Linked DNA regions of Homo sapiens: region 2 is linked to region 1. Evidence: fine-mapped expression QTL. A gene starts in region 1. The other region holds a variant in brackets. All regions are shown on one strand. Distances are from middle to middle. Region 1 holds the start of LINC02507 (long intergenic non-protein coding RNA 2507). Region 2 overlaps EDNRA (endothelin receptor type A).

What was found.
Region 2: its variant is fine-mapped to the expression of LINC02507 in lung (GTEx, PIP above 0.99). The same link has a PIP of 0.9 or more in ovary, prostate, tibial artery, uterus and vagina.

Annotation. Positions count from the first base shown.
Region 1 is chr4:147,568,558-147,571,479 of GRCh38, forward strand. LINC02507 (long intergenic non-protein coding RNA 2507) reads left to right here and starts at 1,141. Exons shown (of 4, transcript NR_187416.1): 1 at 1,141-1,501.
Region 2 is chr4:147,541,359-147,544,280 of GRCh38, forward strand. EDNRA (endothelin receptor type A) reads left to right here. Exons shown (of 8, transcript NM_001957.4): 8 at 1,120-2,922. The coding sequence ends at 1,260. Among named protein-coding and RNA genes, the nearest start is that of LINC02507, 27 kb to the right of the region's middle. The variant G/C (reference allele first, on the strand shown) is at 1,330.

The sequences.
Region 1 (2,922 bases):
TGCATTCTTTAAATATTGAAAAATGGTATTAATTTCTGCAATTCCACCCAGGATATAATATTGCTCTGATTTATTGTCTTGGCTTGGAGAAACAATCTCGGGGATGATAGGATTTTAGAATAGCAGAAGCCAACTAGTTGCTTTAACCAATTGGCTCTTCCTACCATAAGGGTTCTTACTCACAGGTCAGTGAAACAATATGAGCATTCTTCCAATTGCAAAGAATATCAATCCCAGTTATGCCCAAGAGGACTGGGGAAATGATCACAGGTTGGGTCTCTGGACCCATTGTACATATTGTAACATAGATCTAGGCTAAGACTCCACATGTCTCCTCTGTAATCATGGAGCCAAGAAAGCATTTTCAGATCCCCTGATATCAGCATCAGTTCAGATCCTATGTCCAAAAGCTCTCAAAAGTCTTCCTCTTTCTATAGCATACAATTACTCTGTTAAACAGCTACAGTTTCCTTTGAGTTAGGATTGATATATTGTATATGCTTGCAGTGACATTGAGGGGTCTTTCATTAGGCAGACACAGCCTCTCCAATTGGTGGTCTCTGATCAAAAGAATTAACTAAGCTGGAAACTGGACCAGAGATTGCAGGTTTCCACTATGGTAGCTGATATCAGTTTTCTTCACAGCAACTCTTGATTTTTTTTTTTCTGATTGTATAAGCCAAGCAATGTGCTAGCTCACTCTTTATCTCATTTGCCCCAAGGAAAATATAGTCTATTAGACACTGCCACAGATATGTGCAGGACTCAGTGCCCCAGATGCAACTCTGGTCTTTCTACCTGGCATGATAATTACATCCACCATGATACTGATGGTTAAATGTTACTACCCTGACCTCTGCTATTCTGGAATTCCATCATCACAATTGACACTATAGAACCCAGTTCCATACAGAACGGAGCCTTAGGCATCCAGCCGTTGGGGTGTGCCACTCAGATCTCCTTTAAAGGAAGAAATTGCCATGAGGAATGTAGTTATCTGACAGCCTCCAGCTGCCTCAACTTTGAGGTCTTTCGCAGCATTCACTCAAAGGCCACATAGTCCTGGTCAAAGACTAAACATGGCAAAGTTTCTAGAGCTGGTCCATTCTTGCTCATCATAGGATTCCTCTAATGGGAAATCTTTCCCCAAGGGTTCCGCATTAGCCTAACCAAGACTTTCTCTGAGACTCTTAGTTATTATGATGCTACTTCCACCAGCACCAGGGTTCTTGTTGCTATCTGGCTGTTGAGTGATTCAGTCCCACTGAGCAATGTCAACCTGATTGTCTTTCTTTGTTTTTAAGAAACAGGGTCTTGCTCTGCTGCCCAGGCTGGAGCACAGTAGTGTGATCATAGCTCACTACAGCCTTCAACTCCTGGGCCTTAGCAATCCTCCTGCCTCAGCCTCCCAAGGAGCTATGGCTGCAGGTATCCGCCACCACTCATTGACAGCCACTTCCAGTACTCACTGTCTTGGACACAGACTTGAGTAAAAGTACAGGTAATTTATTTGGGAAATGATCTCAGGAAGCAGGTAATGAAGTAAGAGAGATAAATGAAAGGTTCTGTCTGGAAGTTCTGAAGGAGAAACTATCCCATGTCCCTCTCCTAGCTTGTAGTGGCTGCAGGCAATCCTTGGTGATCTTTGGCTTATGGATCCATCACTTCAATCTCTGCCTCTGTCTTCACATGGCTTCTTCCCTGTGTATGTCTGTGTCTCTGTGTCCAAGTTTCCATCTTCCTTTAAGGCACCAGTTATTGGATTAGGGACCATTCTAATTCAGTATGGCCTTATCTTAACTTGATTACATCTGCAAAGACTCTATTTCCAAATAAAGTTACATTCTGAGGTTTCTGGTAGACATGGATTTGGGGAAACACTATTCAACCCAGTACAGGCTCCAAAGACAAATAACTAATTGCATAGTTCTGTCCTTTTGGCCACACGGAAATGTGGCTTCAGGGACCAACAGAGTAACTGTTATTATACATATTATCTTGTTATAATAATGGTTATTATGCACATTTATAATGATTTACATCACTGGATAACTGAACAGTCAAAGTGTTCTCCTAACATGTGCCAGAGCCAAAGTATAACGGTAAACCGGGCCAAGAGCATTCTTTAGTTCAGTGATTTCCAAACCCTTTACCCACAGAATCCTTTGTTCAAATGACATTTCATTAGGGGTGTTCAGACAAACATAATGGATAAAAACTGTTCTTGCAGAAACAGGGCCGGTAGGACCAGAGGCTCCCCCTCCTGGGTCAGATTATGCAGTAAGGAGCTTCACAGAATACGACTGGAAATCCACATACCCACTTTTCTGTTTAATTCAGGAAGCAGTTGCTAAACACAACTAACAGAGCAAAGTAAGTACACAGGGCTAAGAGAAGAGGTAGAGAGAAGAACAAAATGAATTTAGGAAAGACTAGAAAGGAGATTGTTGTGGGCACTTTAAGTATTTGGATCCAAAAAGGAGAGGAAAAGTCTGAGAATACCGATCTGTGGCTTCCCGGTGATCCCAGAAGAAAAGGTAAAAGGATGAAGAGGAAAGGGAAGGAAGAAGCTACTTATACAATGATTTAAAGTGGTAGCTGATGTTTTATGGCTTCTTAGATGAAGCTCTAAAGTTTTCTGAGTCAACTTTGAGTCAATTAGCTACATAGGGCAAGCATGTTTACACTGAATGACTTAGAGATCTTCCCAAATAAGTAGACAAACAGAAGACTTTAGTCTCCAGCCTCATTAATCTAATACCTTTTGTGAGCACTTAGCTTGTATACAAAGCCAAATAAAAGCATTCTATCTAAATAAATCAATAATAATTTATATCTTCTGAGCTCTCCAAAGAGAAATGTTTATATGTAGAGAAAATAAATAAATAACATGACATTTAAAGGAATAAACGATTCTACCCC
Region 2 (2,922 bases), 27 kb before region 1:
GTTTAACTTTAGCTTATGGTACATATGAGGCAGAGTGCGGTAGAGGTCAAGAATGCAGGCTCTGGAAGCAAAGAGCCTCGATGGACATTACAGCCCTGCACTTGCTAACTATCTACCCCAGGTAGTGCCTCTCTTGCTTTTTCAGTTTCCTCACCTATAAAATTGGATGATCACAGTATCTCTCTCATAAGGAGGGTAATATATGTAAAATGCTTGAAATAATAAGTGCTCAATATGAGTTGATTACTATTAGGGACAGAGTAGAGAGGAAAAACACAGTAACGACCTGCATGGAACTTACAGTCTAAACAGAGGCAGACATATATTAACCAAGGAATCACACAAACAGATGAAACTCGGTATGGAAGTTTGGGGCCGTATTTCTGAGGTCTTCTTGGAAATGTTTGCCAGTCACAAAACACTCAGCCCAAAATGGATTGACTAACATGCAGGTTAAAATTAGTACATTATATAAGGTGAAATTAATTATTACTTACTCATTAATTTACATATTCATTGGGGGAGGGAAAATCAAGGTAAAAATTATCAGAAATTAACCCCACTTTTTGATGAATCTTCCTAAAAAGGCAGTATATCCAAGAGAAAGAGCCCAAATCTAGAGAGTCCTGGGTTCTAATTCCAGTTCTAACTCTCATTATCCTCTCTGGACCTCACTGTCCTCATTCATAAAATGGGGGAATAGCATAAAATGGGAGAACATCCAAGGCTGTTGTGAGGATCTGATAAGGTACCTGGTGCGGAGAGCCACACAGGTGGTGCACACTGAAGAAACGCTAGGACCCCCCCACCAGCCCAGCCCTACCCGTGCCTGCCCCAAGCTGTGGAGAGCCCTTCCTCTCACCTACAGTGCCTTCCCTTTCTCTTGCACTTGGTAATAAAATTAAAATGAGAAACAAGGGTTCTATTTCTCTGCACTGGAATGGACAGTGTAACTCCTGCCTGGTGATAACAGGCTCTCCACTCTAGGTTACTGTCAAGGTTCACTTCCCTCGAATGCGAATGGACATTTGCCCCTCATTAGCATGGCCCAGGGCCGCTGTGTTTGGCCGGGAATGGGCTGGTAGGCTCGCCTTACTTCGAGTCTGTTCCTTCCCCCAGTCATGCCTCTGCTGCTGCTGTTACCAGTCCAAAAGTCTGATGACCTCGGTCCCCATGAACGGAACAAGCATCCAGTGGAAGAACCACGATCAAAACAACCACAACACAGACCGGAGCAGCCATAAGGACAGCATGAACTGACCACCCTTAGAAGCACTCCTCGGTACTCCCATAATCCTCTCGGAGAAAAAAATCACAAGGCAACTGTGA[G/C]TCCGGGAATCTCTTCTCTGATCCTTCTTCCTTAATTCACTCCCACACCCAAGAAGAAATGCTTTCCAAAACCGCAAGGGTAGACTGGTTTATCCACCCACAACATCTACGAATCGTACTTCTTTAATTGATCTAATTTACATATTCTGCGTGTTGTATTCAGCACTAAAAAATGGTGGGAGCTGGGGGAGAATGAAGACTGTTAAATGAAACCAGAAGGATATTTACTACTTTTGCATGAAAATAGAGCTTTCAAGTACATGGCTAGCTTTTATGGCAGTTCTGGTGAATGTTCAATGGGAACTGGTCACCATGAAACTTTAGAGATTAACGACAAGATTTTCTACTTTTTTTAAGTGATTTTTTTGTCCTTCAGCCAAACACAATATGGGCTCAAGTCACTTTTATTTGAAATGTCATTTGGTGCCAGTATTTTTTAACTGCATAATAGCCTAACATGATTATTTGAACTTATTTACACATAGTTTGAAAAAAAAAAGACAAAAATAGTATTCAGGTGAGCAATTAGATTAGTATTTTCCACGTCACTGTTTATTTTTTTAAAACACAAATTCTAAAGCTACAACAAATACTACAGGCCCTTAAAGCACAGTCTGATGACACATTTGGCAGTTTAATAGATGTTACTCAAAGAATTTTTTAAGAACTGTATTTTATTTTTTAAATGGTGTTTTATTACAAGGGACCTTGAACATGTTTTGTATGTTAAATTCAAAAGTAATGCTTCAATCAGATAGTTCTTTTTCACAAGTTCAATCTGTTTTTCATGTAAATTTTGTATGAAAAATCAATGTCAAGTACCAAAATGTTAATGTATGTGTCATTTAACTCTGCCTGAGACTTTCAGTGCACTGTATATAGAAGTCTAAAACACACCTAAGAGAAAAAGATCGAATTTTTCAGATGATTCAGAAATTTTCATTCAGGTATTTGTAATAGTGACATATATATGTATATACATATCACCTCCTATTCTCTTAATTTTTCTTAAAATGTTAACTGGCAGTAAGTCTTTTTTGATCATTCCCTTTTCCATATAGGAAACATAATTTTGAAGTGGCCAGATGAGTTTATCATGTCAGTGAAAAATAATTACCCACAAATGCCACCAGAACTTACGATTCTTCACTTCTTGGGGTTTTCAGTATGAACCTAACTCCCCACCCCAACATCTCCCTCCCACATTGTCACCATTTCAAAGGGCCCACAGTGACTTTTGCTGGGCATTTTCCCAGATGTTTACAGACTGTGAGTACAGCAGAAAATCTTTTACTAGTGTGTGTGTGTATATATATAAACAATTGTAAATTTCTTTTAGCCCATTTTTCTAGACTGTCTCTGTGGAATATATTTGTGTGTGTGATATATGCATGTGTGTGATGGTATGTATGGATTTAATCTAATCTAATAATTGTGCCCCGCAGTTGTGCCAAAGTGCATAGTCTGAGTAAAATCTAGGTGATTGTTCATCATGACAACCTGCCTCAGTCCATTTTAACCTGTAGCAACCTTCTGCATTCATAAATCTTGTAATCATGTTACCATTACAAATGGGATATAAGAGGCAGCGTG